Linked DNA regions of Homo sapiens: all the other regions are linked to region 1. The links come from fine-mapping of genetic effects on gene expression. A gene starts in region 1. Each other region holds a variant in brackets. All regions are shown on one strand. Distances are between the middles of the regions. Region 1 holds the start of DHRS12 (dehydrogenase/reductase 12). Region 2 overlaps WDFY2 (WD repeat and FYVE domain containing 2). Region 3 has its middle 52 kb from the start of LINC02333. Region 4 has its middle 7.4 kb from the start of TMEM272. Region 5 has its middle 41 kb from the start of CCDC70. Region 6 overlaps TMEM272 (transmembrane protein 272).

Region 1 (4,090 bases):
ACACGACTTTCCCAAGGTCACCAGAAGGTAGGTGATCTTCTTCAACACCCAGCCTCGGTGCCAAAGGGCAGTCCCCAGACAAGCTGCATCAGCATCATCTGGAAACCTGTTGGAAATGCCCTGCCTACTGACTCAGAAGTGATTGCTTGGCAACCTGTGGTTTCATGTGCCTTGCCAGTGATTTTGACTCAAGCTGAGAGGACATTTGTACTTACTGTTTCCTGAAGCTGAGGTGACAGGGATGGGGAGGAGGAAGCTGGCAGGTATCTGTGTCTCCCCACACCCTCAATTTACCCAAATATGAAATTTGCTTAGGACCCATCCACACTTGCCCAGGGTTTAGGAGTCTGTTTAAAACTGCCCCAGGGAATTATTAGGTTCAGCAAAGTTTAGGAAACAGTGATTAGATCCTCCTGCCTTAGGAGCCCAATATAGGGAGGCTTTATAAAAATCCTTGTGCCAAGAGAAACGTTGTAAACTCTAACTCCGCGCTCTCACACTGAAGTCAAAACAAGGTTGTTGTTTTTCTCTCCTATTCACTAAATCCACAACAGCAGGAAAACCCATCTAACTTTGCCAACTGCCTTCCCCTCCCCTCCCTTCCCCCACCAATCTGTGGTGGATTGGGCCCCTTGGCCTCACTTCTACCTTCCCTCAAGGTGGGGAAATCAGAGCGAAAGAGTCCTGGGAGAAATTTTTACAGTCTGCTTTCCTTGGGGCCCACCCCTGGTTGGAAACTGACTTAAGCTTTCATGCTGTGTAATGTGGAAAGATCCAGCAATTAATGGTCATTGCCAGAGGACACCCCTTTGAAAGAAAGAGGCTGCCACTGTATTCCCCTAAAAACTGTGGGACAGGGCTCACGACTACACTCCCCACCATTCTCTGCAGCAGGGGCTCCTGAGACAGAGCTGAACCTTCTCCAAAACGATGTGGGGTGAAGAGCAGGGAGTTGCAACTCCTACCTCCCCTAGGAGTGCTGGCCAGGTTGCCGTGGGAACTGATAAAGCCCCAGTGCAGGGAGAAGCCTCTCAGAGGTGAGAATCACCTGGGGCATTTGGATGAAATGCCAGTCCAGGCCCCTGTGCAGATCCACTAAATCAGAATCTGTAGGGATGGGGCCTGAAAACTGGGTACTTTTAATTCTCGCCCAGTGATTCTGATGTGCAGACAGGGTTGAGAACCAGCGGTTAGCCTAATCAATTCTAAGAGAAAACCTCCATCTCTCCTCCGTCACAGGAACCTGTCACCTCTTAAAACCACAATGAGGTGGAGAGCCAACTAGGGCACACTGAGCGTGGTCACGGGGCGACGAAACCACCACGCACCGTTCCCCAGAAGCACACACTGGCTGGAAAGTTCCAGCTGGAGCCAAAGGTCGCAGTCCAGGTGCTGCATCTTTTTAAAGGAAACACACCCAAAGGCACTAGGACAGAGCCTTAGCTAGCGATTTAGATCCAGCCCTATCTGACGCCGCCAGCAGCACCACGAAGACACTTCCACGAGCACACCCAGCGGGGCGCCGAGGTGCCGCCCAAGAGGCTCCTTGGCGCCGGGGCCGCCTGACGTCAGTGGGACGGCCCTGGGCTTGGGCGCGCCACAGCCCCGCCCCTCGGGCGCCAGTCTCGGTCGCGGGCATTGAGCGGCTGGAGTCTGGCGACTGCCCCACGCCCAGCCGTGGGTCGCTAGACGGCGGGCGCACCCGTCGTTCTGGACACGCTTAGTCGGCCCAGCGAGAGGGCGAAGGAGCCGCGGGCGCGTCCCCGCCAACCCTGCTCGCCCGCGCCGAGGCGGGCCACGTGACAGCCCGGGGCCCCGCGCCCCGCCGCGCCGCCTTACTTGGTGTACTCGCGCAGCCCCTTGGCGAACCACACGACGCTGCGGTACAGGGACATGCCGGGAGCGCCCCACGCCTAGCCCCACCGCGCTCCCGGCGCGGCCTCCGCCCTGGTCCCGCCCCCCGGGAGTCGCCCGCCCTGACATCATCCCGGTTATGTAAGAGCCGCGGCTTCCGGTTCCTTGCTCCACCGGTAAGGCAAGGGGTCTCGGGGCCGGCCGGTCGACTCCGCCCCAGCCTCAGAGGGTGGAGTGAGGGCGGACCGGCCCTGGTGGGGGCCGCAGTCGAGGTCCGCAGTCTCCTCGGGGTCGAAATCGGGCATCAGCGCCGTTTAGAGAACACCGTCCTGCTGGGCATGGCCGGGATGCGAAGATGGCCCTGCAACGCACCTCCTAGAATTTGGTTACCTAGAAAACCATGTGGAATAAAACGACGAGGCTTATGATATTTAAAAGACTTCTGCATCGAATTGGTGTTATCATAAGGGTTATTTTAATAACTGGCATTCTCTAAGTTTCTACACGTGTTGGGGGATGCAGTGCCGTGCCACATTTCCCGTCTCCAGCAAGCGCAGTCAGATTGGCGACATCGCAGGCAAGAGGCAGGGCTGGGGCTCCCACCCGAGAAGTAATTGTCTCCAAAGTTGGACTTTTGCCACTGGTTCTGCGACTTCATGCAATGCCAGGGAGAGCCCCTTGATTTCCCCCAAATCCTCATCAGCCTCTTTCCACCCAAGCCCAGATGAACAGTGTGAGTAAAAAAGAGTGTGGTTGCTGCGTGAACCCAGATCTCAGACTAGTCATCCAGCCCCATTATGTAGGACTCAGACACCCCTGTCCACATCTAACCTCCAGCCCTAACGCCACATTAGAAATGGGGGTCTTACTGCTGCTGTCACTCCTAGTCACCCTGTTAAATTCTATACCGGTTTACCCAAGTCGCCCAGAGACTGGGCCCCACTTACATAAGCTGAAGAGACCAGCTGCTTTAATAGCCTCATTACCTAGGATATAGGATCACTGTCCAACCTCACTCCACAGTGGGCAAGTTTTTACTTCAGAATAACTTTTGAAATAAATTTCCCCGGAACAGCTCGCCCCTCTCAACAGGACTCTGAGGCTCCACTACGTTGCTGTTATTCCTGACAGAGTGATGAAAGGAAATTTAAACAAGTGGCATTTTGTAAAACCACCCCAGCCTGTGTGACTTTCAATGCCTGTCCGATTTGGCTGGGAAAATATTTTAGATCCCCAGGGCTACATACTGTTTTTTATACCCTCCTCTTTGTGTCAGTGATGGAAAAGGTGTCAATCTGCTCTGAATCTCTCTGAACACCTCAGGAAATAGGCTTTTGGCTCGCAGAGAGGGGATGAGAAATAGTTTTGAACCACCAAGTCTCTTGGAGGGTGTCAGCAGCCCCTTGAAGTAAAAGTGTGGCTGCAAACCCAGCTCTCTGCATTAGCCAGGTGAACCTGAGCATGCTGCATACACCCTCAGTCTTGGTTTCTTAATATGTAAAATGGGAATGAATATGCGCACCTCGTGGGGTGGTTGTGATTAAAGGCATTCATTATAAAGAGCTTAGTTTCATACAAAGTGATCAGAAGTGTTGGTTTCCCTCCTTAAGTTTTCTTCTCATTCCTTTTTCCCCTGCGCTTACAGCCATGCAGTGTACATTCAAGAAATTTCCATGAGGGCATGAGGTGTCCAGTGTTAGCCTCAAATCAAGCATCCACGAGGTAGTTAGTGTATACATTATATACATTTAAAGAGGAGGTCTTAGGAAAAGCCAAACCCTGTCTCAAAATGAGCTTCCACTCTCACCTGGATGCCAAGTAACACACACACACAAACAAAGGGCAGTATGGAGTTCACAAGGGAATGTTCCCGTTTAACTGGAGTCAGCTGAGCTGGATTCTAGTCCAATTTCTGCCAGTTATTCCCTGTGTGACCCATGTGATAAAATGTATAGAAGGCTTAAAGTGTGCCAAGCATTGTGGATTATAGCACTTAATTCTCACACTGATCCATATGGTTACTCCTGCTATTATCCCCATTTTACAGATGAGCAAACTGAGAGAGGTTACATAACTTGACTCAGGTCACAGTAAATACATGGTGGAGCCAGGCTTTGAGACCAGGTAGTATGATTCCAGAGCCCACACCTTCCCTGCTGCATCATACTAAATGGGGGCAAGTCACTTAGCCTCTGGGCCTCAGTTTTTCTCATCTGAACAGAAAGGGGGCCAGACT
Region 2 (4,090 bases), 35 kb before region 1:
GTGCTTGCTTGATAGCGCCTCCTTTTGTCAGAAAGACGCTGATGTTTCAGGCTGGCACACCCAGAAAAATCCCTTCCTTGTGGTCCTTGGCTGATGATGAGCCCTGGATCAGAGTGTCTCCAGGACCACTGAGAAGCTGCAGCCGTCTGGGTTTTCCTCTGCTATGGGGGATGAGTTACGTTTATTCCACCATGGACACCAAGAATGTATGTAGATGTATTCTAAATCTGCTCATTGGTTTTATTACAACTTTTCCTGGAGTCACTAAGAGGTAAAATGGTGTAAATTAGAGGTTTTATCAAAGTGTAGTACCAGAATGCCAGATGCATTACTGAAGCCACTCCTAATCTTAAGCAAATGTAAACTAGGCCTCATTAAATTGTTTGTGTAAATATGCATCGTCCCTTGGTTATGCTGTGCTTCTGGGACCATGCACAGTAAAGGCAGTGTCCAGCCCTCTCCTGGGGCGGGGGGGGGGGGGGGGTGCACAGCGCCAGCCTCTGACACTGGAGGAGCTGAGAAAGGGAGGGGAAGTGGAGTTCACAGGGGGGCATTCCTGCTGCCCCCACCCCTGCGTCCCCTAAGACTGAAATGATGGTTCATCTCAAACTTCGAATTCTTTAGAAAACCATTCTCGAATAAATGAGACTTAAAATAAGAAAAGAACCTGCTGCAGGAGTTCAAGGTGAGCCTGATCACAGCCTCGGTAGTATTTATTTTGAAATAAAAGTTCCCATCCCTTGTAGGCCTCGCTGTGAGGCACAACGTCTTCGAGGGGAAGTTGAAGTGGGGTCTTCTTATTCACTGGTCCCTAGACCGCACCTTCTGGTATCTTCTAAGGCAATTCTGGTACCGCACTGTGTCTGGGTTGGCCTATTTAAATGTCTGAGCCAGCTGTTCCAGGATTTCAATGAGTTTCTCCTCTTCGGCCGGTGAGGAGGACGCTGTAGCGAGAGGCAAGTGTGTAGAAACTGGCTTCCGATCTAAAAGTGAGAGGGAACCGCAGAGAGGTGTGAGCTGCTGCAGCGTGGCTGGGTCCATGTCCCTGTGCTGCTCAGGCCTTGAACCGACGCCTGCTGGAGTGGCAGCACCCTACAGCTGTTAGACCCCCATCCCTGCTGTCAAAGGTCCCACAGGGATCAGGCAGCATGGATTGATATGTAAAGTGCAGTTTGGGAACTGGGAGGCTGCAGCCAGGGCTGGACGGGAGACCACGTTTGGGTGATCAGCAGGAAGGGGTGCGGCCATCCTCCCGGATACCCCAGGGGTCACCAGCGCTTCAGAATTCCTCAAGCAAGGGTGGTTCTCATCAAGAACAGAGGAAAGAGAAGCCAAGCAAAGAGCCTGGCTTCCACCCGAGGTCAAGTGCTGTCTTCGGATGGCGTCCACTCACACGCCTGCCCCCTTAGGAGCCCACTGGGGAGAGACGTGAACAGATCACTGCTTCCAAAAATAGAGAAGCAGAGTCCCTTACACCCTTTGCACTGCAGAGAAGCAGAGTCCGTTACTCCCTTTGCAGTGCAGCTTTGAATAGCGCCCCTCCTGGGCCTCAGCAAACTGCAGAGAAAATCTTCCATTCCCAAGGTAGGAACTGCCTCTCCCGTTCTCACAGGACCTTGATGACAGGGTTATCACAAGTCTCCAAAGAAGCTACCAACCTGGAGTGAAGCGCTTCCCAAAACTAACCTCAGCAGGCAAAGCAATCATCTCGCCAAAGAAGCCCAGGCACCCCCCAGGGGACAGTCCCACCCCAGGTTTCACGGAGGGGAAGGTGCGCCTCGAAGGCCCAGCTGCTGCCCCTAGCCCTGTGTCAGCTGCCTTCACAGCCAGGGAGGAAGTCACCTTGAAAGAAGCGGCCGCTGGGCTGTGCGGCTGCGGCAGAGGAGAGGGCCAGCCACAGCATGGTGTCCGCGCCCTGGGCCTCGGAGCGCAGGCGGTCCC[C/T]GAACCTGGCGTGGAACCCCGGCATCGCCTGCCTCACACCTGGGAGAAGGAAGGGTCAGGCGGATTAGGACAGCATTCTCCAGCAAATGTGGTTGACTTCCCTTAATTTAAAAAAAAAAAAAAGTGCAAAAATGAAATGGGATCATAAACTGCTCCTTCTATTTTATAGCACTCACCCAAGCCACTCGGAACCAGTTCCAAAGAACCTTGTTACAAAGCCCCCAAGGTGTCACCTGATGGAAAGTGGTGCTCACCAGAGGCCTGATTGAGTCCCCATGTCCCCGGGGCACCAGCACCCAGCCCAGCCCTGAGAGCAGAGTCGCCCGCAGAGCCCTCCCTTTCCATCCTAAGAGAGGATTCTAATGAGCTGTGGGGCTCACAGTGAGGCTGGGCCCAGCAAACCACTTAGTCTCCTGGGTTCAGGAGCCCTCTCAAACCATCTAGGCTCAGAGGATCCTGGCTGTTGGTTCCCTGGACTGTTTTAGTGTTTTCCTCTTTTAGGGAGGAGTAGATAAGAGGAAAGAATTCTTCACTTCCTCTGCCAAGCCCCTCGAGGTGTCCCACCCTCTGCATCCCAGGGCTACAGGGAGGTGTTTGCCTGGAGTAGCCTCCCGGGCCTGGCCTGTGCCACAGCGTCGGGCACTCTACCTGCCCACGCCTTCGAGGACCCAGCCACACGCTCTGGCTCCAGTCCACACCCCATTTTCCCACAGACCTCAGGGAACACAGTGTCTCCACAGTGAGCACATTGGGAAACAAAATAGTTCTCTCTCGAAGCCAAGGAAAGAAAATAAACCAGAGAAAACAACAATTAAGAGCCTTACTGAGATCATGGAATTTTAGAGCTAGAAAGGATCACCTAAGCAAAAGCCCTCCTTTTTTAAATTAAAAATAAACATCTTTTTTTCTTTTCACAGAAGCAATACTTGTTTACTGTAGAAAAATCAGGATAAACTGATAGGCAAAAAGAAAAAATGTGAAAACCTTGTGATGTGTCACTCCGCGGTGACACATGTCCGCATGCTCAGCCCTCCCAGGCCCCTGTGGCCACAGACAGGTTGTGTGCACCTGAGAGCTGCTCTGTAACCTCTGAACAACACATGGTAAACTGCACCTTGACCCAGATGATAGAGCCCGCTGGTGGGCTTGCCAAGCAGATTTTAAACATCTGAGCTGATGCTGGGATTGTCAGAATGGTGTCCTTGGAGGGTAAGAGGCTGGGGGCCCCCCATGGCCTCCTAGAATTCACCCTGGACAGGCAGAACCAAGCATGTCTCCCATTAGGCCGTGAGAAGAATCGAGAAGCCATGCTCTCTGAGCACTCCCAGGCTGAGTCTCCCCTAGTATACTTTGCTGAGAACATCCTTTCTGTATTTAAGACAGGAGACTCAGATCTGTACAGGTGAGGACTAATTTCTGCCAAATCTCCAAGCTGGTCTCCATGAGATGCCACAAAGCACCAACACACACCTCTTTCTATAGGGGTGTGGTAGTTACAAAAATAAGATCATGAGGCATGTACTATTCAGGAACTTGGTATCTTCATTTAATGATATAGTGCACACAGGGTTTTTCCATAGGCATGATTGGCAGCAGAGTCTTCAGCCCTGAACAGATTTTGCACAGGTGTTCTATAATTTATTAACTTCATCTCCTACCACCAGCACTGTGATAAGCAACCTTGTTTTCCCTATCTTTATTTCTTAGGATGAATTCCAAGGCTTCTGATAAATAGTGATTTTCAGAAAGGCCATGCCAGCAGTGTGTGAGAGCCTGATTCCCAAAACCCCATGGCCAGGCCCGGCTGGGAGGTCTTAGCCTCTCTGGGCCTCAGTTCCCTCATCTGTAAATGGGTGTGATAATAGACAGTAGTGGCCACTCCACAGAGGCTTGAGGACAAATGCGTTAATCCGCAGACAGCGCTGAGACCAGTTCTTGGCGCCGCGGGTGCACCCTGGGGTGTGTGCTGTGGCTGCTGCTGCTTTCAGTTCCCTTGTTTGTAGAGGAGGAAAGAGCTGCAGAGAGCCCAGGTGAGCTGCCTGAGGTCATGGAGTTGGTGAGGCCAATCCGGAAGAGAATTCTGCTCCCCTCCACCGCTGCTCCAACACGCTTCCAGATCATTCGAGCTGTGTCCTTGTGGCTGGCATTT
Region 3 (4,090 bases), 480 kb after region 1:
ATTACAAACATTATTATAGATTTAAAATAACATACAAAAGTTAATTTTATATGATCAGACTCCATTTTCACAGAAAAATACCTTTTAAGATTGAGGTTGACAGAAAAGAGCTAATACTCAGGGTAATCAAGATAACATATTAAATTATCCAACATAATGACCATTAAGCTGGCATGGTGTTCTTAACACTCCACTGGTTCAAACCATATGCCATGTACTTATGTTGGCCTCAGTCTGAAGTTCCCCCTGTTCTTGGAATTTATTTCTTATCTTAAATACCAAAGAAAATCCAAGAGTTCTGGGCACCAGTGATGGTGGGAACTCCCAACGTGCTTTGTAGCCCTCTGACTCAGAACACCTGAGATCTACAAAGCTGTGACCTCATTCTCTGGGGTTCTAGGAAGAGAAGCGGTCTCTCTGGGATCCTTGGGATTCAGGATAACTACTAGAACTTAATAAACTGAAACTCAAATGGAGTCAGCTGAAAATCCATTCAAGTTTTTGTGCTGCAACCGAGTAGTCCTGAATTGAGATGACATGGAAATCTTCCTTGCCAGGGCTAAACCACAAATATGTCACACTATCACAATGGCATAGCATATAGCCTCACGAATAAAGAATACTTTGAATGAATGTGGCTTAGATGAGGCAAAAACAAAATAAAAATATAATTACAAGAAAAAGTGAAGTTAATGTAAGTAAATCAACAGTTAAGTGTCACAAACCTGTAATATAAGTGAGGTCTAGGTCAAATCCATCACTTTCGTATCACCTTTTGTTTCCTGAAACCTGAGAGTTTAAAACCATTATTAGTTGGTGAAACATAAATCAACATAAAAATAAAGAACATTATACAGTATAGATATCAACCCTTGCCAATGGGTCCCAAAACACAAAATATTTTTCTGAATCGTAAGCATGTTTTGCCCACTTACCAGCCTTCTTATCAGCTTTCCAAGTTGTCTTTTTAGATGAGCCAGATGAAAAACTCTTATCAGAATGATAAGTCGTAGAAGTCGAAATAAACGTGTCCATCTAAAAATAAATTTAAAAGATCAATTTTTGCTTCAGAAACAGACAATTTTATGAATATAAATTAAGTTTAGAGCAGCAGTTGTTAACCAGGGACAATTTTCCCTCCTCTCCTCAATCACCTACATGGGGGATATTTGGCAGTGTCTTGAGGCATTTTTGGTTTTCACAACTGGTGTGCTTGTGTGTGTGTGTGTGTGTGTGTGTGTGTGTGCGCGCGCATGCATGCGCTACTTCCATCTAATGGATAGAAGCCAGGAATTCTGCTAAACATCCTGCAATGAATATAACTGCTCACCACCCTCCTATGACAATAATGATCTGGCCCAAAATGTTAGTAATGCTGAGGTTGAAAAATTCTGGTCTAGAGAAATAGTGAAACAATAGAGTCTTAGAATTTGTAAATTTAATGTTGGGATTTGAGACTAGCATTTTCAATTTTTCCACATCAAAACAAATTGAGGATTCTTGTTCACCTTTGTTACTCCCATCTGTAACAGAGGTTCACTACAGCTGCTAATGCACATTAGGCAGGCAACAGATTGAGATACTTCCCAAGTGTGCTAGCTGGTATCTCTCCTACCGTCAGAAACATCAAAGCAGATAACTGATGGTCTGGACTAGTGCTTATCTGGTTTAAGCATGCATAAAGAAGAGTCATCTGGAAAAGCGTGTTAAGCTACAGATTGTTGGATCCCAGAGATATTGATTCAGTGGGTCCAGGGTGGGGCCTAAGGTATTTTTCTTGTATTTCTAGCAAGCTCTCAAGTGATGCTGAGGTTTCTAGTCAGAGGACCACATTGGCTGAGGTGATTTTCAAACAACTCCAAAAGCCTATCACTTAACATGCTTAGTTGGTGCCTGAGTTGTAGTCCAGGGAAGCTAGGGTACAGAAAGAAACCCGGTATTTGACCCATGAACAAGCTTAGGAAGCCACAAACATCTCCATCCCAGTATACGTTTGCTCTTCCATTTTCCTCATTGTCACAGTAGAAAAGAAGAACAAAAAGAGAGTCACCAGGTCCTCATACACCCTTTAGTTTCCTAATCCCTAACAGTTCTAACTTTGCCTTAGCTTTCTTTGTTTCTACCACAACTATACTGCAAAACTCTACTGTTGTGTTGCTATACGTGTCATCTCCTAGTTTTCTGTTCTGTTTTCTATTTCTTA[G/A]AACATCATGATTGAGGCTGGGCACGGTGGCTCATGCTTGTAATACCAGTACTTTGGGAGGCCGGGGTGGGCAGATCACTTGAGGTCAGGAGTTCAAGACCAGCCTGACCAACATGGTGAAACTCGTCTCTACTAAAAATACAAAAATTAGCCAGGTATGGGGGTGCATGCCTGTAATCCCAGCTACTCGGGGGGCCGAGGCAGGAGAATCACTTTAACCGGCGGGGCAGAAGTTGCAGTGAGCCCGAGATCATGCCACTGAACTCCAGCCTGGGCAACACAGTGAGACTCCATCTCAAAAGAAAAAAAAAAAAAAGGAAAAGAAAATCGTGATTCATGGACACAGGAAGGGGAATATCACACTCTGGGGACTGTGGTGGGGTAGGGGAAGGGGGGAGGGATAGCATTGGGAGATATACCTAATGCTAGATGACGAGTTAGTGGGTGCAGCGCACCAGCATGGCACATGTATACATACGTAACTAACCTGCACAATGTGCACATGTACCCTAAAACTTAAAGTATAATAAAAAAAAAATTAAAAAAAAAAGACCACTAAAACTAGAAAAAAAAAAAAAGAAAGAAAATTGTGATTAAAGTCACTCAAATTTTGCATATGCTCAAATAAATTCCCTCTTGGCTGTGGGAAAAACCCAGAGAGAACATTATGTGTAAGGGATTTGTAGTTGAAGCACAGAGGGGAATTGTTTTTAATATCAAATTTTTTTATGTATCACATATGAAACTAATAAGAATGTCACACTTGATCTTAGCCAAAAGGCCAAAAATGATACAAATGGGAATTTGACGAGAACTTCAAAATGTAGTGAAGTTAAAGTTAGTACAGGAAGTAAAGTCCTTCTTTGGCTACTCCATCTTTTTTATTCAATGAATGGTACTTGGTGTGTATACTCTTCACTGGTCCCTAAGTATCACAATCTTTTAGTTTCAACCTATGTGGGAATTTACCTAAACATTTCATTTTAAAGCAACATATTTGGTATAAAATGAGCCATTTGAAGTTGAAAAGATTATACAGAATAAAAGCCACAGAAAATGCAAAAAGTAAATGAAAAATTTTAAGAGAAGTGAGTCTTATATTTCATACCTGGGAATATCCTTAAGAAACTTAACGTCAAAAAAAATGTAAACGACATCAACCAGCAGAATAATCACAGTAACAGCAGTATCTAAAATGTTAAGTAAATCAGAAAAATAATGCTGTCTCCTGTAATATAAAACAGAAAAATATGAGTTCATCTCCCCTGCAAGAAGAGATAGGAATATTTAAAGACCACAACTATTGACTGATCCCCATTAAGAATTCTACTTTCATACATTATTTAAAATGCATTTTCTAGAGTAGACTAAGGGAAAAATATAACATTCATGGGAAGTTTTCAAACAATAAATTTATATTCATCATTTGACACATATATATAACTAAAACACCAATATGGCAATTTAAGTATAGCAAGACATATAATTAAATGCATATTAACCACCCTTATCATAGATGATGAGGTATCTATCCCCTCAAGCATTTATCATTGTGTTACAAACAATCCAATTACACTTTCAGTCATTTTAAAATGTACAATTGTTATTGACTATAGTCACCCTGTTGTGCTAGCAAACAGTAGGTGTTATTCATTTTTTTCTATTTTTTTGTACCTATTAACCATCCTCACCTCCCCACCCCCAACCTCCTACTACCATTCCCAGCCTCTGATGACCATCCTTCTACTCATGTCTATGAGTTCAACTGTTAACCCTTTTAGAGCCCACAAATAAGTGAGAACATGTGGTGTTTGTCTTTCCGTGCCTGGCTTATTTCAGTTAACGTAGTGATCTCCAGTTCCATCTATGTTGTTGCAAAAGGCAGGA
Region 4 (4,090 bases), 48 kb after region 1:
TCTTATTTTACCAATAATTTTTTCTCAGGTGGGGATAGGGGGTATGCATTGCTTCTGTGATATTGTTGCTACCGGTCCATTTCAATAAACAGAGCTATACCATATCTATTTTTAAAATCATGAGTACTTTTTGATATTTAAAATTTAAATCTAATACTATACTCTTTTGTGTAATTTATTTGATTTTTATCATTGTATCCCTTTTCTTTTATACTGAAAATTTTGAATCCTAACATTATTAACGTATTTATATGCTTTGTCATACAATAGAAAGAAATGTTTCAAAGTAACAGTACAGCACTTCTACAAAAATAAAATGACCAAGTTGAAGTTTCAAATTTATTTGAAGTTCTTCTCCTCTTTAGAATATATCCCGCTAAGGAGGGTGAGTCAAAGAAGTGTGCCCTAGGATCATGTGACATAATCCTTCCTCTGTAGGGGTATGGTATATATTTGATGTATGGTTATGTTCATGTGTTCATTTCCAATTTTAAGATTTGTTTAAAAGAAGAGGTACTACAGCACTTTGGGAGGCCAAGGCAGGCAGATCCCTTGGGCCTAGGAGTTTGAGACCAGCTGGGCAACACAGCAAGACCCTGTCTCTACAAAAAGTACAAAAATTAGCTGGGTGTGGTGGCGTGCACTGATAGTCCCAGCTACTTGGGGGACTGAGGTGGGAGGATCACTTGAGCCTGAGATGTGGAAGGTGCAGTGAGCCATGATCATGTCACTGCACTCCAACCTGAACTACAGAGTGACATCTTGCCTCCTCCGTAACCAAAAAAAAAGAAGAGGAAGAAGAGGAAGAAGAGGAAGAGGAGGAGGAGGAGGAGGAAGAAGAAGAACAAGAAGAAGAAGAAGAAGAAGACGCCCTACATTTGTAGTCATTTTTTTTTTTCACTTAATAATGTATCCTGGGAATCTCTCCAAATCAGCACGAAAAGACCTTTGTTTTACCTTTTTTTTTTTTTTTTTTTTGAGACGGAGTCTTGTTCTGTTACCCAGGCTAGAGTGCAGTGGCATGTCCTCGGCTCACCACAACCTCCACCTCCTGGGTTCAAGCAATTCTCCTGCCTCAGCCTCCTGAGTAACTGGGACTACAGGCGCACGCCACCATGTCCAACTAATTTTTGTATTTTTAGTAAAGACAGGGTTTCACTATGTTGGCCAGGCTGCTCTCAAACTCCTGACCTTGTGATCTGCCTGCCTCAGCATCCCAAAGTGCTGGGATTACAGGCGTGAGCCACCGCGCCCAGCCTGTTATATATTTTTTTACAGCTGCATAGTACTTTGCTCTGTGGATGTGCCAGTTTATGTAAGTGGTTCCCTATTGCTACAAAATTGAGTTACTTCCAATCTTTTGGAATTACAAACAATACTCCGATGAATAACCTACACAAGTATCTTTCTGTAATTGTGTACATGTACCTGCTGGATAAATTTCTAGACATGGAATTGCTGGGTGAAAAGGCAAATTCACGTGTAATTTTCTTAGTTTCTGACAAATCCCCATACATGGGGGTTATAACAGTTTGTATTCCTACCAGCACTGTATAGCAGGGCCTATTTCCTTCCAACTCTGCTAACAGAGTGTATTGTCAAACTTTTGGATTTTTGCCAGTTTGATCGATGAGAAATGCAACAGTTTTCTTAATCAATTGCATTTCTCTAATTATAAGTATGGTTGAAAATTTTTTTCATATATTTAAGAGCCATTTGCATTTGTCTGCAACCAATTTGTTCATATCCTTTGGCCATTTATCTATTGGGTTGGTGGTCTTTGTCTGCTCAATTTCAGAAGCTCTTTATAAAACGGGCACTGTGGATATAGCAGTGAACATGACAAAGTCTCCTCTTTCACAAAGCCTGCTTCCAGGGCATGATTCCTTTATGGCTGGTGTGGCTAGAAACAGTTCTCTTCTTTCAATACAGAGACTGAGGCCATGAGCAGTGATGATTATGTTGTCATTGTCTTCATCTTTGAGCAATTTTCCAGTTTGATCTACTTTTCCAGGAAAATACAGTTGACCCGCGGCCGGGCGCGGTGGCTCAAGCCTGTAATCCCAGGACTTTGGGAGGCCAAGGCGGGCAGATCATGAGGTCAAGAGATCGAGACCATCCTGGCCAACATGGTGTAACCCCGTCTCTACTAAAAATACAAAAAATTAGCCGGGCGTGGTGGCGGGCTTCTGTAATCCCAGCTACTTGGGAGGCTG[A/G]GGCAGGAGAATTGCTTGAACCCAGGAGGTGAAGGATGCAGTGAGCCAAGATCGCGCCATTGCACCACTCCAGTCTGGGTAAAAAGAGCAAAACTCCGTCAAAAAAAAAAAAAAAAATACAGTTGACCCTTGAACAATGAGTGCTTAGGAGCACTGAACCTGTGCATAGTCAGAATTCCATGTGTAACTTTCAACTCCCCAAAAACTTAGCTACTAATAGCCTAATGTTGACCAGAAACAATAGCATAGTCAATTAGCATATGTTTTGTATGTTATATGTATTATATATACTGTGTTCTTACGATAAAGTAAGCTGGAGAAAAGAAAATGTTAAGAAAATCCCAGGCCAGGCGTGGTGGCTCATACCTGTAATCCCAGCACTTTGGGAGACTGAGGCAGGCAGATCACCTGAGGTCAGGAGTTTGAGACCAGCCTGGCTAACATATAGTGAAACCCCATCTCTACTAAAAAATACAAAAGTTAGCTGGGCTTCGTGGCGCATGCCAGTAGTCCCAGCTACTTGGGAAGCTGAGGCAGAAGAATCGCTTGAACCTGGGAGGCAGAGGTTGCAGTGAGCTGAGATCATGCCACTGCACTCCAGCCTGGGCAACATAGCGAGACTCCATCTCTCAAAAAAAAAAAGAAAGAAGAAAGAAAATATATTTACTATTCATTAAGTGTAAATGGATCATCATAAAGGTCTGCATCCTCATCGTCTTCACATTGAGTAGGTTGAGAAGGAAGAGGAAGAGGAGGTGTTGGTCTTCTTGTCTCAGGGGTGACAGAGGCCAAAGAAAATTCATGTATAAGTGGACCTCACTGTTCACACCTGTGTTGTTCAAGGGCCAACCATAATATATCCCTAATGGAATAAATTAATTTTCCAACATAGGGGAATGTACACTCTGGCAGTAATTAAAAATTGTGTTCTCAAAAATGTTTAAAGAAATTGGGAAGTGTAAATGATATATGAAAAAGCAAGCCACAAAACAGCATACACAGAATAAAACCAATTGCATAGAATATATGTAGTCATAAGGATAGGAAATATATTAGAAGAATATACCCCAAAATGTTCATACTGGTTACCTTTGAGTATTGGGATATGGTTGATTTTCATTTTCTTCTTCATCTTTGCTCTATTTTCTGATTTCTTTTTACAATGAACATGCATTACCTTGAAAATTGGCAAGAATGGTAAACTATTTTTAAAATAATAGCATTGAAAAGATTAAGTTAAATTTGTGTCACTCATGAGGCACTGATTTTAAAATATTTAAGTTAAACTGTCTATCTTGAGTGAACAGAAAATATTGATTTTGTACAAAGTGTGTGGCAGGGGGAGAAAGTATATCCTTTTCAATCCCGTGAGCTCGCTGATGTTAAGTGATTTATTTTCTGTACTCCATTCACACTTAGCAATAATAATCTTATTGCTATTTCCTCCAGAGGCTATTATAAGGCTTACCCGAAATAGCAAACACTTTATGAACTGTGAATCACTGAGGATCCCAAAGTTTCATGTAAGAATACTTCCCCAACCCATCTAAATCAACTCCAGCTCAATTTCACATTTCTATCAGTGCACGATCACTTTCCAGGTATTGAGACTGGGTACTTGAAACCTTTCCTTCACTTCCTTCATCTTCATGCCATGCAACCATTTGATCACCTTTTGCATCTTTCTTCAAAATATTTATTGTAGCAATCTGTTCTTCTCTGACTCCCCAGCTATGATGCTCATTGTGACCCAGGCTATTTGATGCCTATGTTATTATAGTAACCTTCTACTTTAGAGAGGTATGGTCTCTGAGCAAAACTGCCTTGGTTCAAATCTAGGCTCTACTTCTGTGTAGCTTTAGGCAAGTTTCTGA
Region 5 (4,090 bases), 99 kb after region 1:
GTTGTGCCTGGCATTTGACCTGCTAAAAAGCCAAGTTCCACATGGTCTAGAGTTCAATGCAGAAATATCCCTGGTACATATAAAGAAACCACTCCTGCTAGAGGGGTGGCGCCCGGTGGAGCTGCCTGTGCCCCACCCGCCCTCCCATGCCTCACACCCCTCTCAGTTGTCAGTTGCCCCTGGAACAGGTACTTCTGGAAATTCATATAGCCAAGGAAAGTCAAAAATGAAGAAGAATCCAACAAAAACACAGAAATACATCAGTTGACTTGGGTCAATGGCATTACTAACTACCCCCGGAGAAGCCTGGACACATCTTCAGTGTCTCTATTTTCCTTTCTGCCCTCCCCCAGTGCCCACTCCATCCCAAGTCCCTTTACAAAGCTCTGTGACAGTGGCTCTCCTAAGTATCTAGAATCTACCTGCTCTCCTAAGGCTCACTGCCTCCCCGAGTTCAGGCTTTATCAGCCTCCTCCCACAAACACGTAGCCTCCTCCCTGCTTTCCCTACCTCCAGCCCAGCCTAGCTACAATCCTCTGGGCAGAAGCCCCATTGGGTGTGTTTACATTCCAAATTTGTGCAGAAAATCCACATAGCTTCATTGGGTTACCCAGTCCAGAGCAAAAACGCCAGGCCTTTCTCACTCTGTCATCCAAGCTCAAAATCCAAGAGAGGAGAGTTTCAAGGAGGAGGAGCTTGGGAAGTTATCCACTGGGGTCAAGCTCCATGGAAAGGTCATGTAATAAAAAAACTGAAAAGAATCACTTGGGATGTGGTATCAGGGGGGTTACTGCAGACCTCTGGAGAAGCCATTTCAGGGGTGAGGTCAGAAGCCAACGTGCATTGGATGAAAGAATAAATATAGGTGGATTCTCAGTTTTGTAAGATGTAAAAATCAAGAGAAGCAAAATGAAAAAAAGCACTGATGTTGAAGACAGTTTCCCAGTTGCCTTGTTACATTTTCAGTGTGGGACTGAAGGGGTGGTAGGCATTACTTCAACAGAATCACAACACATTTTGCCCTTCTCACGGCCTGGCGCCTGGAAAAGCTTTGGGAATTATTAGCTGCTGCTATTGATGTTGAGGGCACCCACATGCCTTTAGAACCAGAATCTAAAATGTTCAGCCTCTCAATGTCTAAAATGAACTGCTGCAATGTTGCAGATTTAAAAATTAGAGGAAAGTTATTTTATTAAATACATTTTAGAATATAGGTTTTATAGAAAGTATGTTATCATAGCTACTCTAGAAGCTGAACTTGGGAGAGTCCCATGGTTAGAGGGACTGAGCATTCTGCCAACAACCAGCCCCACCTTGCCAGCCAGGCCAGTGAGCCACCCCAGAAGCAAGGCCACCTGCCTCAGTCAAGCCTGCAGGTCACTTGCAGCCCTGATGGACAGTCTGTGGGCAACCTCCTGAGAAACCCAAACGGGAACCATTCTGCTAAGCTGCTCCCAAATCTCTGACACACACAGACTGTGAAATAACAAATATTCATTGTCCGTTTAAGGCACTAAGTTTTGGAGTAATTTATTTTGAGAAACAGATAACTAACACAGCCCTGACAGCAATTGGTTATTGGCTATGTGATGCCGAGGGAGTGGATAACTTCCTAGCATGGTGGCTTCTGCTCTGCAAGGG[C/A]AATTCTTCAGGAAGCAGGTGGCTGCGGTGAGCAATACTCAAAGCTGGGAGATGAGTGCATCCGCCTGGTAAAGGGGCCCTGGGCAAGGCACCAATAGCATCCACTGGGGGTGTTGATTATAATCTAGTACCTAAATATAGTTTTGGTTTTGACAGGTCAGTTTGTACACAAACACAATTGTGGAAATATTTTGCATTTCTTTTGAAGGTCTCACCTCCTTAGTGTGTGTATCCAGGAGGTACACAACTAGAACTGGATGCACGAGGCAGCAGCAGTGGGAAGCAGCAAGGTGATCTAGAGACACTTTATTTATTACTCACTAAGTCCCAAAAAGTGCTTGCAAATATAGAAAGTGCAGGTAGAGATGATCAATAATAACTAACTATAGTGTCTTCCCTTCATTGCCATTGAGGTCTTGGTTTCCAATAAGACACTTCATAACTCATTCCTAAGCATGCTGTTGGAAATGGGAGGGAGGGAGAGGTGGCACACCAACGAGGTCAGGGAGGGAAGAGAGACTCTACGTCAGATGACGATGTCTCAGTTGTCACTTCAGGTTCTGGCTGCTCTCTCCACTGTACAAGGAAAGCCACCAAATAGAGGGCAAACTGCTCCCCCTACTCTCCCCAGAACACCCCTTTTTCCTATCCCTAGGTGTAAGTGCAGGAGACCCTGAGCATCTAATGGAGTCAGATGCTAAGTTAAACACCCAGAAGTCCCGGTTTCTATGGGGCCAGAGGAAAAGGCAGAGTGCTATTTCCAGACTTCAGTGGCAACCGAAAAATGAAAAAGACTCGTGTGGGTGTGGGGCAAAGGCTGCCCCAGAATGCCCAAACTTTAGCTTCAATAAACCTATCATAGCCATAATGAGGCAGTGCTGGGGCAGAAAAGAGAACCATATAGGGTCTTCTGCTCTGGCAGAATCATACCTGGTTGTGCAACCAAAGTGTCTTCTCACACCTGCCTCCTATGACACCATTTGGGTTTCTCCAACAGTCTTCCACGTGTGTGTGTGTGTGTGTGTGTGTGTGTGTTTAGAAAGAAGCATCTGGTCACCAGAAACTCAAAGGCCAATAACTCTTAACAAAAATACATTCACACTGGACAAGTGAACACTCAATCTAACACACAGCACCTGTGGCCCTGGGATGCTAGGCATGAGGTGGTTTTCTGCAGTGCTGCTTCTCATTCACCATCAGCATCAGAATCAGCATGAGCTTAATGACTGCTTGTTGCCTGCTTTGCAGTGATGATGACAATGATGGTAATATTAATGATGATGATGATGATGATGTTAATGAGCCCATGGACCAGATTTAGTGCTGCTGCCTATTTTGAAATTAAGAAATACATGATGACAGAAACTGAATTCAGGTAGCACTGGGCTAAAGGCAGATGACTGATGACTGCTTGGTGGCTAGCTTATATGCAATTCTTATGATGACCCTAAGGTAATTGTTGTTGATGATGATGATAATGATAATTGATGATCATGATCATGATGAGTCAGATCTGGGAAAACATCACCTGGCCTTCAGCAGCTAATGCATAGTAGTAATGAATAATTTTCTCTGGGCTTGAATAGGAATTCATGGTATGGACGTGGAAAAGAAGGAGGCTCTAGATCAAAAGAGAAAAGATAAGCATGGTCCGTTTTCAAGATATTGTGAAAAGTACAGGTTGAGCAATCCAAAAATCTGAAATGCTCAAAATTCTGCAACTTTTTGAGTATCAATATGATGCTCAAAGGTCATGCTCAAAGGAAATGCTCATTGGAGCATTTTAGATTTTAGATTTTCAGTTTGGGAATGCTCAACCAGCAAATATAATGCAAATATTCCAAAATCCTAAATCTAAAACACTTCTGGCTCCAAGCATTTCAATTAAGAAACATTCATTCTGTACTGATGTGGAGGCTGAAAACCTTGAATTTTATTTACCAGGTAGGGGAACATCATCATTAGTAGTGTTTCTTAACCTCATTAGTACTGACATTTTGGAATAGATAATTGCTGTGGGAGTCTGTTCTGTGTGCTGTGGGGTGTTTAACAGCATCCCTGCCCTCCAACCACTTGACGCCAGTAGCACACCTCCAGTAGTTACTGTGTAAAATATCTGTGGACATTACCAAATGCTCCTGGGGGAGGTCAAAAGCACCCTCGTTGAGAAGCATTGAGCTAAGAGAAACAGCAGACAACACGAAGCAGTCAACAGAGAACGGCCCTAAGCAGGAGAAGAAATGTCAGGCTGAAGGCAGTTCGTGCAGGGAGAGAGACTGTCCTCCCTCTTCCAGAGAAAAGAGCTGTCACGACACTGGACGAGGGCCCAGAGGCAGGACTTCAGAGCAACAACCTCAGAGAGCCATGATTCCAGAGCAGTCTCAGTGCCTGCTGTCACCACCTCGGACACGGCAGGTCCCACTCACCTCGGCTAGAGCTGCACCTGACT
Region 6 (4,090 bases), 38 kb after region 1:
GAGTCAGGGATTAAGCAAGGAGGTCACGGTGCCTCCCTGGTCAGTCCTGTCATGCTTGATCCTATTTAACCAGGCAAAGATTCTTATCCCCATTTTACAGATGAAGAAACTGAGGGTCAGAAAAGTGAAGGACTTGCCCAAGATCACACAGCCAGATTGGAATCCAGGTGTCTTAAAATCTGCCAAACTTGAGGTGCCTACTCTCTGTTAACCAGAACGGACTTTGACAGTTTTGACTGCAGTGAGATGATGGGACACAGAGTGGCAGGGCTGAGCACCCAAGGTTTTCTGACCCCCCAATCCCTGGGAATCCCAAAGGCAGCGCTTTGGATTCCAGGGGTCCCTCTGCTGTTTCTGCCTCCTGACGCAGGCTCCCTGCCCACTGTTCTCCTGGAAGCAATTGTGGGGGATGCGCATGAGTCTGTCTCCCTGGCATGCAGTAGGTCTTCAGTAATGTTTAATGAATAATTCTATGAACTACTATTCAAATGTCTCTTCACAAGGCTCCATTTTCCCCCACAATGTTCTTGCAAAAACTGTGGCTGTGATGTCCTTATACACAGAAAATCAGGAACACCACAGCCCTGAGGAAACCACAGCCTCCTTCCACATCCTTTGACTCGGGATTCTACCGATCAAGGTGAAATGAGACCAGTTCTCTGGCCCAATGGGGTTTGCCAGGTGCACATCCGTTTGTTACATAACAAGTAGGCCCCAAGCCATGGACAAATGGCTACTGTATGAATTACAGATTTATTGTTGATGTCCACACTTCATGAGGTTGATTGCCACACGGGTGTCACAGAAGCTAAGCCACTTAAAACCCTGCCTGGAAAAACAACCCTCCTGGATCCAGTGATAAGCCCAGTTATCTAAAGGGGCCATGGCCCATCACGGCTCCTAAAGGCCCGGAAGGTCGGTTCCTTTCCTCACCCTTCTTAGGGAAAACAGAGGGTGCACTTCACATAACAGGGAGAGTGTGTACTTCACATCTTCCAGCCACGAACCACAGCATTTTTCTCCTGGATCACAGAAGGGATAGAACAGAGGGAGGAGACACAAGAGCCATCTCTTTACACTTGCCTGGTGGAGTCGCCACTGATTTACAAACTTCCTTTGAAATGTGTTGAACGGTTTCTATCAGCGCCTACAAACTAAGACATTCCAGTCTTCAAATCCACAGCAGCTTTGCAGAAACTAACGAGATGGGTCTGTGTCACATTATAACAAGACATTTCTACCTTGGGCCATTCCCTGGGGTAAGAGGTCACGCTTTAATCTCCTGTGAATCCTGAAGAACAATGTTTCACCACAAAAAGTAATAGAGCTGCATATACATTTTTTAATGCAAATGTCCTAAATTGGCTGATCCCTTTAGCCACTAACTGCAAATAAGGTAGAAACATCAATTTGAAAAACAGTGATATCTTTATTGATAATATCAGACCACAAGAGGTGGCAGCCAATAGAACACACCAACACAAGTCGCAGGTATTAGATCCATTTTATAAATGAGGAGACTCTTATTCTTTCAAGCTTGTTATTTTCATAAACTGGCAAGATGGATGAGAACTAAAAAAAGAATGATGTGCTGTGAATTCTGTCACGCCTTAAAGAATGTTCCCTAAGAGACAGGTAGCAGTGGCAGTAGAACTCAGCTTTGGCATCCAGCCCGAAAGGGAAGACAGAATTCCCAGGTACAGTCTCAAATGCTGGCCGACAAACTTTGCATATTGTGTTCAACTTCCCTTACAAGGAATAAAATGTTAAACACACACACACACACATCATATGACCTCGTGCATGTAATAATGTCTGTAGATCTACGTAAACACATAGAAAAAGATCAGCAGCATAAACACTAAACCACTGTGAATAACTGTTCCCTATGAAGGCAGGTACAGGGATATGGGGCCACTGGGGCTGGGGTAGGGGTAGGGAGGAATGTGCCGCAGGCAGGCGTGGGTAGTATTTTCATTTCCACTTTATACCCAAATATTGCCTTGCCTTTTCCCCCATTAGCAGGTTTTACCATTATAATTTTAAACTTCTTTTTAAAACCTCTTAAAATTCAAGAAGTATTATTTGAAATGAAAAGTAGTTTGCTTTCCAAAAGTCCAGAGATTTTTAAAAAGTAGCATGTAGGAGATAGATAAGCAGAAAAGGAGTAAGTCCACCAGGGAGCAGACACAAAAAGAAGAGAGATGATGTGATGGTGGTAGGCAAGATTTTTCTCTTTTGGAATACTTTCTTTAAAAATTACAAAAGCGAATTCACAGAAAAATTAGATCAAGGAGAAAAGAAAATCATTAGTCATTATAAACAACTGCAGAACTTCCAGCCCAACTGTTAGT[AT/A]TTTGGAGCTTTTAAGTATATGCATATATACATATGCATATGTGCATGTACACACATTTTACATGGTTGCAATAATCAGGCACATTAAGTGAACACATCACATTTTGACATAAGCATTCTTTCTGTTACCATTTGGTCTTCAGAACTCTCATTTTCACAGCTGAATTATATTTCACAGAGTACGCTATATCAAACTATATTTCTCTATATCTTCTTGTTGGATATTTACTTTTCACTCAAGTAATCCTAAGAGACATTTCTCTCCATGAAAAGTGCTTTGTTTCATGCACACGTAGATCTCTTGGAATAGTTATGTAATTAAAAAGCATAAGCAACTTTTTGGATTTGAGGTAAAATTGACTTATAAATGAGCTGTATCCATTTCCAGTGCCACCAGCAATATGAGAGTGGCAGTTTCACCACACCTAACCAGCACTGGGTGGCTGAAAGACTAATGCATTTTTATTACTCTCATAGGCAAAAGTGGAAATTAATTATTTTAATTTACATTTTTGATTGCCAGTGATATTTTGCCAATTCTTTCTAGGCTTATTTCCCAGTTGTATGTTCCCCCTTGTGATTTGGTTTTTATGACCCAAGATATGGATTTATTTCAATTCAGAGGAAGCCCACAAAGAAAGCTGCAATTTGAGAAAATAGCAGTGAATCTGCTTTTTGATTCACAGAATTCACTGTGTGAATTTGCAGATTCAAATACACTACAAAAGACCTATTCACTATTATGGTGGGGACTTGAACAACTCACAAAAAACTGCACGTTCCTTGGAGCCCTTTGAAGCGGCAGCTCTTCCAAAAGAGGGTCCCTCAACAGCAAGAGATGCCCAATAGAGCAAATACATACTAATGATGGATTCATGTCAATGCAATCCATTAAATGATTGACTAAAATCTGTAATGACACAGATTTTAGTCAATTTCTATACCTTCTATATCTTCTACTAAGAAAACGTACATTTTTTCTTATTTGATAGAAAGTTTTCTTATTTGTTAGAAATCTGAAACAGGAAGAGATTGGGGTAACAGGCCGGGCAGTGCCTTCTCTCCAGTGTGAACAAACAGTGACTTACAAGTCTATCCTTGGGCATGCTGTGATAGGACTGTGTGTCTCACACCTGCCTCTGCACCTAGAAGGGCAGTGATAATAGCCCCTGCTGCTTCCTCTCCTAGCAGCTGAGTGATAATAAAGGGCACGATGGGAATTAATCAATAATAATTGCCAAATGATATGCTCAATGCATTTTCAATTTTCAGTCCAATTGATATATCTCAGTGGTTCTCAACCAGAGGTGATCTGATCCCCAAGGCACATTTGGCAATATGTGGAGACATTTTTAATAGTCATGGCTGGAGCAGGGCTGTCGATAAAGAGACCAGAGATACTGAAAAACATCCTCCAAGGAGCAGGGCAGTCCCCAACAACACTTATCTGCTCCAAAATGTCAATAGGACTAGGTCTGAGAAACTTTCTATGTCTGTCTAACATTCCCAGTTTTAGAGTTCAAATTTGTAAAATTCTACTTTTGTTAACCTCTGAGTTGTGTCATGAATCAACAGTAAACATATATATATGTATATATATGTGTGTATGTGTAGACACACACACATATATATATATGATTGTGTTTTTACTGATTGGCTTGGTAAATTAAACTATTTATTCCTAAATCAGCTGTGAGGACCAACTCACTCTTGGTTTTGAATAACATTGAATATT

Evidence for each region. PIP is the estimated chance that this variant, and not a neighbour inherited with it, causes the effect. A credible set is the group of variants that fine-mapping cannot tell apart.
Region 2: its variant is the best candidate, but not a certain one, in a credible set for the expression of DHRS12 in whole blood (TOPMed, PIP 0.89).
Region 3: its variant is the best candidate, but not a certain one, in a credible set for the expression of DHRS12 in whole blood (TOPMed, PIP 0.59).
Region 4: its variant is the best candidate, but not a certain one, in a credible set for the expression of DHRS12 in whole blood (TOPMed, PIP 0.85).
Region 5: its variant is the best candidate, but not a certain one, in a credible set for the expression of DHRS12 in whole blood (TOPMed, PIP 0.87).
Region 6: its variant is the best candidate, but not a certain one, in a credible set for the expression of DHRS12 in whole blood (INTERVAL, PIP 0.89).

The regions. Positions count from the first base shown.
Region 1 is chr13:51,802,215-51,806,304 of GRCh38, forward strand. It overlaps DHRS12 (dehydrogenase/reductase 12), which reads right to left and starts at 1,949. Exons shown (of 9, transcript NM_001377533.1): 1 at 1,840-1,949. LOC107984561 (a long non-coding RNA gene) reads left to right here and starts at 1,622. Exons shown (of 2, transcript XR_007063805.1): 1 at 1,622-2,587. RefSeq lists enhancers at 265-314, 2,700-2,829 and a silencer at 1,510-2,149.
Region 2 is chr13:51,767,314-51,771,403 of GRCh38, forward strand. WDFY2 (WD repeat and FYVE domain containing 2) reads left to right here. Exons shown (of 12, transcript NM_052950.4): 12 at 1-396. DHRS12 (dehydrogenase/reductase 12) reads right to left here. Exons shown (of 9, transcript NM_001377533.1): 8 at 1,843-1,980; 9 at 680-983. The coding sequence ends at 874. Among named protein-coding and RNA genes, the nearest start is that of DHRS12, 35 kb to the right of the region's middle. The variant C/T (reference allele first, on the strand shown) is at 1,942.
Region 3 is chr13:52,279,927-52,284,016 of GRCh38, forward strand. It overlaps the pseudogene TPTE2P2. Among named protein-coding and RNA genes, the nearest start is that of LINC02333, 52 kb to the right of the region's middle. The variant G/A (reference allele first, on the strand shown) is at 2,204.
Region 4 is chr13:51,850,565-51,854,654 of GRCh38, forward strand. It overlaps a transcript of TMEM272 not described here. Among named protein-coding and RNA genes, the nearest start is that of TMEM272, 7.4 kb to the left of the region's middle. The variant A/G (reference allele first, on the strand shown) is at 2,217.
Region 5 is chr13:51,901,297-51,905,386 of GRCh38, forward strand. It overlaps a transcript of TMEM272 not described here. Among named protein-coding and RNA genes, the nearest start is that of CCDC70, 41 kb to the left of the region's middle. The variant C/A (reference allele first, on the strand shown) is at 1,642.
Region 6 is chr13:51,840,267-51,844,356 of GRCh38, forward strand. All of the region lies in intron 1 of TMEM272 (transmembrane protein 272), which reads right to left. Among named protein-coding and RNA genes, the nearest start is that of TMEM272, 2.9 kb to the right of the region's middle. The variant AT/A (reference allele first, on the strand shown) is at 2,355.